Regions from separate parts of the Homo sapiens genome. Here region 2 is linked to region 1. A link means that fine-mapping ties the variant in region 1 to the expression of a gene that starts in the linked region. Tissue or cell type: whole blood. Region 1 holds a variant in brackets; the other region holds the start of a gene. All regions are shown on one strand. Distances are between the middles of the regions.

Region 1 (5,494 bases):
CCCCATCTCTACAAAAAAATTTAAAAACTAGCTGGGTATGGTGGAGTGTACCTGTAGTCCCAGCCTTGGGACTGGGCTGAGATGGGGAGGATCACTTGAGTCTAGGAGTTCAAGACTACAGTGAACTATGATTGCACCACTGCACTCTAGCCTGGGTGACAGAGAGAGACCCTGTCTCAAAAAATAAATACATATATACATACATAAAAATAAACCACGGAAATTTATTTATCATGGTTCTGGAGGCTGGCAAGTCCAAGGTCAAGGCAGATTCTGTGTCTGGTGAGGGCCTGCTTTCTGACTCATAGATGATGCTGTCTTGCTGTATCCTCACTTGGTCAAAGGAGCGAGGTGTCTCTCTCAGGTCTCTCTTATAAGGACACTAATCACATTCATGATAACTCTGCCCTCGTGGCCTGATCGCTTCACAAGAGCCCCACATCCTAATACACTGGGAGTTAAAATTTCAGCATTTGAGTTTCAGGGAGACAGAAACATTCAGACCACAGCAATGCCCTAGCCAACAAATGACTCCATCTCCATATTTATAGCAAACTCTTGGGCCATTGTCTAAGAATTGTTCCCTTTGTGCTCATAAAGAACTCTGGGAATCTCTTGCCTCATAAATACTGAAAATATAAACCGAGGTAATAGATAACTCATGTTTTTAAAATGGTCGGGTGTGGTGGCTTATGCCTATAATCTCAGCACTTCGTGAGGCCAAGGCAGGAGGATCACTTGAAGTCAGGAGTTCGAGACTAGCCTGGCCAACATGGCAGTCTCTACTAAGAATACAAAAATTAGCTGGCTACCTGGGAGGCTGAGGCATGAGAATCACTTGAACCCAGGAGGTGGAGGTTGCAGTGAGCTGAGATTGTATCACTGCACTCCAGCCTGGGCGACAGAGTGAGACTCTCTCTCAATTAAAAAAAAAAAAAAAGATATCTCTACATCTACGTATACAAAGGCCACAATATAAGGTCTCACTGTGGCACTCCATATACTCTTGGAAGTCCTACACATTACTGGTAGTGATCAGGGTACTTATTTCACATCTCAGAATCCACAGTGCCTCATGGGCTCTTGGAGAAGGCATTAATAGAACCTTCCACTTCTCTGATATCCCCAAGCAGCAGGCTCGAGAGGCATACGTGCTCCTGGAAGAACTCTTATTTAAGTTACAAAGTGGAAAATGCACATCATCCCTTCACACCTCCACTCCTGTTTCCCTGTCACCACAGTCATCGATTAGTCACACCTCAGCGGGGACCCACAATTCCTATGCCAGTGCCACACAGGTCCCTCAATTGCCTGTATTGGCCAGCCTGGGGGACATCTGTAAAGCTCATGTTTTTGAAGACTACCTCGCCCTGTGGTCCTCTTTCTCGTGGTTAGGTGCTAAACCCAGGAGGTGGAGGCTGCAGTGAGCTGAGATCGTGCCCCACTCCACTCCAGCCTGGGTGACAGAGGGAGCCTCTGTCTCAAAATAAATAAATAAATAAAATAAAAGTAAAATGTTTCTAGTGCAAACTTTGTTGAAGGCATCACCCTGCTATGATTAGGCTTATGGGTTTAAAGTTATTTGGGTAATAGTCTGTTTGGGGTTTGCAAGAAGTGACACGTGGCTGGAGGGTGGTCTATGAGTAGAAAGCAAGGCTCTAAAGGCAAGTCCTCAAATACCCTGTTAAAGTTTGGACTCCAGGCAGTGGAAACTCCTGAAATAATTTAAAGTAGGTAAGCAACGTTATCAGATTTTCATGCCAGAAAGTCCACCCTCATGGCGGTGTGGGGAATGGATTCAAGGGAGGCCAGGAGTGGAACCAGCAAGGTCAGTAAGGAGTCAATTGCCCCAGTCCATATAAGGACAGGAAGGAATGGACCACAGACATGGGGACAGGGAAAAGAGGAACAAAATGTGATATATTCATTGGTTCATTGGATATGAAGGGGGTGTGAAAGAGAGAGAGAGACACAGCACTTTGTTAGGCCGAGGAAGGCAGTTCACCTGAAGTCAGGAGTTCGAGACCAGCCTGGCTAACATGGTGAAACTCCGTCTCTACTAAAAATACAAAAAATTAGCCAGCTGTGGTGGTGCACACCTGTAATCCCAGCTACTCAGGAGGCTGAGGCATGAAAATTGCTTGAACCTGGGAGGTGGAGGTTGCAGTGAGCCCAAGTTGCGCCACTGCACTCCAGCCCAGGTGACAAAGTGAGACTCTGTCTCAAAAATACAGGGGAGAGAGAAAGAGAGAGATCAGTCATGGTTCTGAGGCCTCTTCCTTGGGTTATAAGAAGGCTATAATGGAAGATATTGAGTTTCTTTTACTTTTCTATTATTATTATTATTTGAACAGGGTCTCACTCTGCAGCCTCTACCTCCTGGGCTTAGGAAATCCTCCCACTTCAGCCTCTGGACACACCCACATGAGTGTGCCTAGCTGAGACTACATGCATGTGCCAACATGTCTAGCTGATTAAAAAAAATTTTTTTGTTTTTGAGTTAGAGTCTTGCTCTGTCGCCCAGGCTGGGTGGAGTGCAGTGGCATAATCTTGGCTCACTGCAACCTCCGCCTCCTGGACTCAAGCTATTCTCCTGCCTCAGCCTCCCAAGTATCTGAAATTATAGGTGTGCACCACTACGCCCGGCTAATTTTTTGTATTTTTAGTAGAGATGGGGTTTCACCACATTGGCCAGGCTTGTCTTGAACTCCTGAACTCAAGTGATCCACCCACCTTGGCTTCCCAAAGTACCGGGATTAAAGGCATGAGCCACCGTGCCTGGCTAATTTTTTTGTAGAGACAGGGTTTCCCTATGCTGCCCAGGCTGGTCTCCAACTCCTGGGCTCAAGCAATCCTCCTCCCCAAAATGCTGGGATTACAGGCATGATGCTTCTTTTTTCTTTTTTTTTGAGACAGAGTCTTGCTCTGTTGCCCAGGCTGGAGTGCAGTGGGGCTATCTCAGCTCACTGCAACCTCTGTCTCCCGGGTTCATGCCATCCTCCTGCCTCAGCCTCCCGAGTAGCTGAGACTACAGGTGCCCGCCACCACGCCCAGCTAATTTTTTGTATTTTTAGTAGAGACGGGGTTTCACCGTGTTAGCCAGGATGGTCTCGATCCCCCGACTTCGTGATCCACCCACCTCGGCCTCCCAAAGTGCTGGGATTACAGGCATGAGCCACCGTGACTGGTGATGCTTCTTCTTAAGACATGTTGACTTTGAGATGCTTATGGACATGCTGATAAATGTGTTCAGCAGACAATTAGATAAACCAGTGTGGCATCAGGAGAATGAGGTGGTTAGACATAGACATTCAGATGTCATTGGCATACCAGTGAAAGCAGAATCAT[G/T]GGAGTGGTTGAGCTGGCCCTGACACTGCAGGGAGAATGAGAAGATCCTGTTAGTTAAAGATGGTACCTTGGAGTATGTTTATAGTTAAGAGGTGTCAGAAGAAGCAGCCACAAAAGAGACTGAGAAAGAAGGGTCTGGTGTGAGGAAGGGAACCTGAGGAGAGTGGTATCACTAAAAATGAAGAAGGCAGAAAGAATTTAAAGAATGAGGCTGGGCACGGTGGCCTATGCCTATAATCCCAGCACTTTGGGAGGCCGAGGTGGGCGGATCACGAGGTCAGGAGATCGAGACCATCCTGGCCAACATGGTGAAACCCCCATCTCTACTAAAAATACAAAAAAATTAGCTGGGCTGGTGGCAAGTGCCTGTAATCTCAGCTACTTGGGAGGCTGAGGCAGCAGAATCGCTTGAACCCAGGAGGCAGAAGTTGCAGTGAGCCGAGATCACGCCACTGCACTCCAGCCTGGGCAACAGAGTGAGACTCCGTCTCAATAAAAAAAAAAAAAGAATTTAAAGAATGAGTATGTGGAACATGTGGTTAATATTTATCAGACTTAAGTGAACCAAAGACAAAAATATATATACATTGGATTTAGCCATGAGAAGATTCCTGGGGCATAAATGAGACAAGATTTTGTAGAACTTTCAAAAAGAAGTCATTACAAAATGAGACACTTATAAAGAGTAAAGAATTCTTTCAGAAGATAGAAAGATAGAGAGATACGGTGGTTGGTTGCTGGAGGAGCTGAAAGGAGAATGTGATGTATCAGGAGAAACAGCCATGCTTGTGTGCTTAGGGATAGAGACAGATGAAAGACAAAGCAGAATGGGAGATCAGTAGAATGAGGTCTTTGAAGAAGTCTGAATAGATAATGTCCAGGGGACTGTTAGCCTTCAATTGCAAAGCTGGATCCCTTTCCTCTGAAACAAAAGGGAAGGAGTATAGATGAATGAAGAGAGGATGGTGGGATACAGGAAGGGGGTATGGGGGTCTTGACTGCTGGTCTCTAATGTCTTAATAAGGCATGATCATGCCTGAGCAAAGTGATAAAGATTTGGAGAGGCCCTTGAGGAAATAAACAAGGGAGTTGCCCATGAACATTTCCTAGGATTTGGGGCACAAACAAATGCTGACGAATAGGAGCTAGTTAAATAAATTACAGTATATGCATAGGATGAACATCTGCTTTTAGAAAGAATAAGATGGCCTGGGTCAGGCGTGGTGGCTCACGCCTGTAATCCCAGCACGTTGGGAGGCCGAGGAAGGCAGATCATGAGGTCAGGAGATCGAGACCATCCTAGCTAACACGGTGAAACCCTGTCTCTACTAAAAATACTGAAAAAAAAAAAATTAGCCGGCCCTGGTGGTGGGCGCCTGTAATCCCAGCTACTCGGGAGGCTGAGGCAGGAGAATGGCGTGAACCTGGGAGGCAGAGCTTGCAGTGAGCCGAGATCGTGCCACTGCACTCCAGCCTGGGCGACAGAGCAAGACTCCATCTAAAAAAAAAAAAAAAAAAAGAAAAGAAAAGAAAAAATAAGATGGCCCGATCTGGTGGCTATGCTTGTAATCCCAGCACTTTGGGAGGCCGAGGCAGGAGGAATATTTGAACCTGGTAGTTTGAGGTTGCCATAGGCTATGATGTGCCACTACACTCCAGTCTGGATGACAGAGACCGACCCTGTCTCTAAAAAAAGAAAGATGATGATGAAATCATTCACAGAATCTGGAAAGATGTCCAAGATGTAGTGAGATATATATATTTGTGTGTGTGTGTATATGTGTATATATGTGTATGTATGTGTATACATAATACATACATAATAAAATAAGAATAAATAGAAAGCAAATCAGAGAATACACTGACATATATGCAAATATGCACTTTTTTAATATGTATATATACGTATATATGTATGTGTGTGTGTGTGTATATATATATATATATATATATATATTTTTTTTTTTTTTTTTTTCCCCAGAAAGCAGCTGGCACAGTGGCTGATGCCTATAATCCCAGCACTTTGAGGGGGCCGAGGTGGGAGGATTGCTTGAGTTCAGAAGTATGAGACCAGCCTAGGCAACATAGGAAGACCTCATCTCTTCAAAAAAATAAAAAAATTAGCAGGGCGTGGTGGCACATGCCT
Region 2 (5,250 bases), 40 kb before region 1:
TTCCACTGGAAATTGTCATTTTTCACAGGAGACTTTTCGTTTTTTTGGTGACAAGGTCTGGCTCTCTGTCACCGAAGCTGGAGTGCAATGGCACCATCTTGGCTCACTGCACCCTTGACTTCCCATACTCAGGTGATTGTCCCACCTCAGCCTCCTGAGTAGTTGGGACCACAAGAATGCACCACCACGCCTAGCTAACTTTTTCTTTTATTTATGTATTTTCAGATAGGGTCTTACGCTGTTGCCCATGCTGGAGTGCAGTGGTGTGATTATGGCTCACTGCAGCCTCCAACTCCTGGGCTGAATCTATCCTCCTACCTCATCCTCCCGAAGTGCTGGGATTACAGGCATCAGCCACCATACCTTGCCTTAATTTTTAAAAATTCTTTGTAGAGATGGAGGTCTCTCTACATTGCCCAGGCTGGTCTTGAATTCCTGGGCTCATGCAATCGTCCTGACTCAGCCTCCCAAAGTGCTGGGATTACGTGCACGAGCCATCATGCCCTGCCTTAATTTTTAAAAATTAACTGTAGAGACAGGGTCTCCCTCTCTTGCCCAGGTTGACCTTGAACTCCTGGGCTCAAACTATCCTCCTGCCTCAGCCTCCCAAAGTGCTGGGATTGCAGGCATAAGCCACTACACCCAGCCTAACATGAGGCATTCTTTTTATTTTTTTTTGAGACAGGGTCTCACTCTGTCATACAGGCAGGTGGGTGGTGACAGCGACCATGACCACGGGTCAACCTGGGCCTCAGACACTGGGGAAAGGTGGCCATGTCCAGTTTTCTCAGGAAATTAGGAGGCAGGTCATCCGAGGAGAGAGGGTGTGTCTGGGGTAGGGTGGAGTAGCTTTCAGAAAAGTGTAAGTCTGGCAAAAGCACTCAGGAAAATGGGACAGAAAATGAGCCAAGCGCTGGATGGCAGCGTTCATTCAGCCCAGCTGAGCTTGGAGGCCATGAAATGCTGGCAGCCCCACACTGCAAGACTGCAGGGTCTTTCTGGGCCACGCCCCGAATCCCAGGTATGGAAGTGAAGGACCCAAAAAGAGGAACGAATCAGGCTGTTATTCTGCAGAACAGGTGAAAGAAAAAAGCCAAGTAGACAGAGCCTTGGAAGTCAAAGAGTCACCCACATGCCTGACCCAGTCAGAAGAAAGGGGACCAAGCCAGGGCGGGAGGGACTGTGTGGGAAAGAGGAGGCTGAAAGGAGGAGAGACCGCGGGCAGAGGTGGACAAGGGACCAAGGTGAAGACCTTTGAGGTGCTTCTTGAACCACAGTGGTGAATGTCTTTCTGGACAAGAGTGCCAGTGCCCACCGCCATCACAGGACACAGCCCCATCCGCACTCCCGGGACAGCAACATCTCATTGTCCCAAACTCTGCCAATTTCATCAGTGAAAAGTGGAGCCTGGAAGCTTTGCATTTCTTCAATGACTTCGAATTTTTTAAAATGGTCTCACAGATTTCCTGGTCATCGGTATTTCATCTGAAAAGTCTCTTTCTGTGATATCTGCTCATTAGAGCGGAGTTCTTAAAATTATTAGAGAGTGTTATACATTCAGTATATTCACCTCTGTGGTGGTTGCTCTCAGTTTTGTCCAGTTAGTCATTCATCATAAATTTAACTTTGATATCATAATAAAACAGACAAAAGTGTAGTTATTATGTGCTTAAATCTACAGGTGCTTTTTTAAAAAGTTCTTTTTAGAGACAGGGTTTTGCCCTGTCGCCCAGGCTGGAGTGCAGTGGCGCGATCTTGGCTCACTTCAGCCTCCACCTCTTGGGTTCAAGCCATCCTCCTGCCTCAAACTCCAGAGCAGCTGGGACTACAGGTGAAAATATCACAATTATATGTTAGAGAGAGAGAGAATGAATCATTGTAAAACAATGAAAAGGTGAAGAATGTCTGTTACCTGTGTAAGTAACATCTACATCAACCCTCACCTGAAGTTCCTCACCTCTTCCCTTGCTCTTTTCTTCAGCCCAAACACGGTGTTCAACGTTCTTCCCAGTCACCGCCCAAGGCCGCTGTCTTAGCCCTGCCGTCATCACCTCTCTGAGCCTACTGCAGTAGCTTCCTATCTGGGTTCCCTTTCCATTCCTCCCGGGTCCCGACTCCATCGGCTGCCAGTTGACTTCCCACAGCACCAACTTTTCTCAGCCTTCTGCCTATGAGAGCTCCCCAAATTCTACCACGGGAGCCCTCAAACCATGATCCTCCCCAAAACGTGAACAGCAGCTTCTCGAACCATGGACAGATGGCACAGATGACAACCGAAGCCAATCACCACTGCCTGTCCCTGGAAGTGGACGCTCCGGGTCATGGGTGGCCATGTATCTCGGTCCTGCTATCCTGGGTGGTTGGAGGAATTCTAGCAGTGAGAGTTGAAAACCGCTCGGCGCGCGGCAAGAGAGGATGAAGCCCGAGTCTGACCTGGGAAGGGAGCTGCTCCCCGGGCAGTGGACCCCAGGGCTGGCGGGGAGGCGGCCTCGGTCAGCCCAGTTGGTCTCGGGCCGCTGGGCCTCAGCCCCCAAGCCTGGTGCCCGCTGGCCCCGGAGGAGCTGTCCCGCCCCCTCCGGCACTCGCCTTCCGGGGCTTGGTCGGCTAGCTGCTTCACGCGCGCGGGCTGGGGGCCCCAACGGCGGACGAGCGCTGCTCCCACCGCTCCAGCGCCCAGACTGTAGCGGCTCCGCCTCCGCGGTCCGTTGGCCCCGCCCCCACGTCTCTTCCGGGGCCCCGCCCACCCCCTTCGGGCCCGCCCAGCACGGCCTCCCCTTGTGGCCTGGAGCCCCAGGCCGAGGGCGCAGAGACCAGAAGGCCGAGCTGGGCGGCGACCCCCGTTCTTGCCCGGTCACTTCCTGCGGCGCCGCCTGCCCGCTGGCAAACTGTGGCTGGGAGACCCTTTAAATAGAACGTATTAGCCAAAACTAGAAGAGCAAAATATGTACCATGTTTCAATTTAATGGGATTGCCAGGTGTTTTAAGGGTCCGCCGCAACGGTCCCTCGAGTCCCGGGGTTTTTGTCCCCATCAGATCATTCGTGGTGTGGATCTTCCGGGAGGTTATGGGAAAGGGAGACCAGCAGCCGGCTCCGTGGGCGGCCATACTGCTCCCCCAGGAAGGCCAGGCAAATCTTCAGTGCTGGGATCCCCCTAGTACGTTCATTTTGTCTAGGGTCCAGGTGGGGCCATCGAGCCCCTTGCCCACAGGATTGGTCCTTTGGCATGCAGATAAGCAACACCGCCAAGAAAAGCCCATGGGGTCTTTAGGCTGTTAGGAGACCACCAGGGAGCCATTCCTAAATCTTCCCAGGTGATGGTTCCAAAAACCCTGGTGTTTGGGGAAAGGAAAAAGGGTTATCCACAGGACTATGCTGGAACACTTTCCCAAACAGTGTCTGCCTGGCTGTCCCAAGCAGCCGGTGATGGAGCGATGGTCATGAGGCTAGACCAAAGACCACAGAGTCTAGCCTCACTCTAGTGGAACTCAGGCACCCACCCGTTAGGATGTCGTGTTGCTGCTGCCCCCAGGTGGGAGCCTGGGAAACCACCTGGCCGACACGGGCCACACCTGATGGGACCTCACAAGGAGATACAGTCCATTAACGTTCGTCAGGGTGGGAAGAAGTGGCAACACCTACTGAGATAACAAAACTCATTAGCTGAAGGGCAAGCTGGCCAGCAACTGGCAGTGATGTTCTCAATAGTCCTGGCCGCCTTATAAAACCAGCTACTTAGGCCGGGCACGGTGGCTCACTCCTGTAATCCCAGCACTTTGGGAGGCTGAAGTGGGTGGATCACAAGGTCTAGGAGTTCAAGACCAACCTGGCCAGTATGGTGAAACCCCGTCTCTACTAAAAATACAAAAATTAGCCTGGTGTGGTGGTGGGCGCCTGTAGTCCTAGCTACTTGGGAGGCTGGGGCAGGAGAATCGCTTGAACCCGGGAGGAGGAGGTTGCAGTGAGCTGAGATCGCGCCACTGCACTCCAGCCCGGGAGACAGAGCAAGACTCCGTCTCTAAATAAATAAATAAACAAACAAACAAAACCAGCTACTTAGTAAAGGAGCAGCTAGTTAAAGCTAACCAGGGGTCCTCAATCAAGGATGGGCCACACTGTTTGTGATGCCAATCGTTTTATTCACACTCTTTACTCCATTGATGAAAGAGGGATTCCTTCCCCCCACGCTCCTGCCCCCGCCCCTGTCCCCACCCCCAGAGATACGGGGATGGCCGAACACACAACACTTGATGCAGGACGGATGCAATCAACAGCAGCTGACTGGTCACAGATACTCCAGTCCAGGGGAGAAGGACCCTGCACACTATGCAGGGCAATGTGGAGGCTACACTCCGGAACACGGTAACAAGGAGGGGCTGCTGGAGGCAGGCTTTGTAGTAACAAAAGTGCAGAGTGAGCCCTGGTTCCCACGGGAGGGTGTGACTGGCTTGTCTGAATAATTCGTCCTTGAGCTGGCAGGGAACTGAAGCCTACTGTTTGGGGATAAGCAGGCTCTGTGTCTGATCCCTAAAATAAGGAGAGTGTTTAGCCAGAGAATTTCATCTGCGGAAGCAGACAGGGAGCGAGGCTTGGAGTTCAGCCATTTGAGGCCCTCTTGATTTAAATGGATGTAAAGACAGAATTTGATATGAATCCTAATTTCAGGCCTTACACCACAATACACTATTAAAAAGTAAGTTTTCCGAGAACTAGTCATTGAGTTCAGTGTCACAAGATTTTAAATAAACATTCTAAACTCAACTGTGGCATAGTGGTTCACGCCTGTAATCCCAGCACTTTGGGAGGCCAAGATGGGAGGATTGCTTGAGCCAGAGGTTCGAGACCAGCCTGGGTAAGATGGTAAGGCCCTATCTCTACAAAAAAAATATATAAATTAGCCAGGTATGGTGATGAGAGCCTGTGGTCCCAGTTCCATGGGAGGCTGAGGTGGGAGGACCACTTGAGGCTAGGAGGTCAAGGCTGCATTGAGCCATATTCACGCTGCTGGGCTCCAGCCTGGGTGACAGAGTGAGACCTCATCTCAAAAAATAAAGAAAGAAGATAATTTCACCTATTGCTTAACATAGAAAATGGGAGCCCTCAGAATGAGACTCCCTTAACTTCCCCAAGAAACTTAACCATCCTTTTTTACTCTTACAGTTGTGAATGTCCTCCAGTAAAGACCACATGAAACACTTTGTAGTTAAGCAAGTTGGGTTTATTACTTGTTGCAAGGAGGGAAGACTCACACC

What was found. PIP is the estimated chance that this variant, and not a neighbour inherited with it, causes the effect. A credible set is the group of variants that fine-mapping cannot tell apart.
Region 2: it holds the start of LINC02175, and the variant in region 1 is the best candidate, but not a certain one, in a credible set for the expression of LINC02175 in whole blood (TOPMed, PIP 0.87).

The regions. Positions count from the first base shown.
Region 1 is chr16:25,023,765-25,029,258 of GRCh38, reverse strand. No RefSeq gene overlaps it. Among named protein-coding and RNA genes, the nearest start is that of ARHGAP17, 11 kb to the right of the region's middle. The variant G/T (reference allele first, on the strand shown) is at 3,349.
Region 2 is chr16:25,064,354-25,069,603 of GRCh38, reverse strand. LINC02175 (long intergenic non-protein coding RNA 2175) reads right to left here and starts at 2,717. Exons shown (of 2, transcript NR_135197.1): 1 at 1,958-2,717; 2 at 649-1,825. It also overlaps the pseudogene SCML2P2. RefSeq lists a silencer at 2,425-2,814.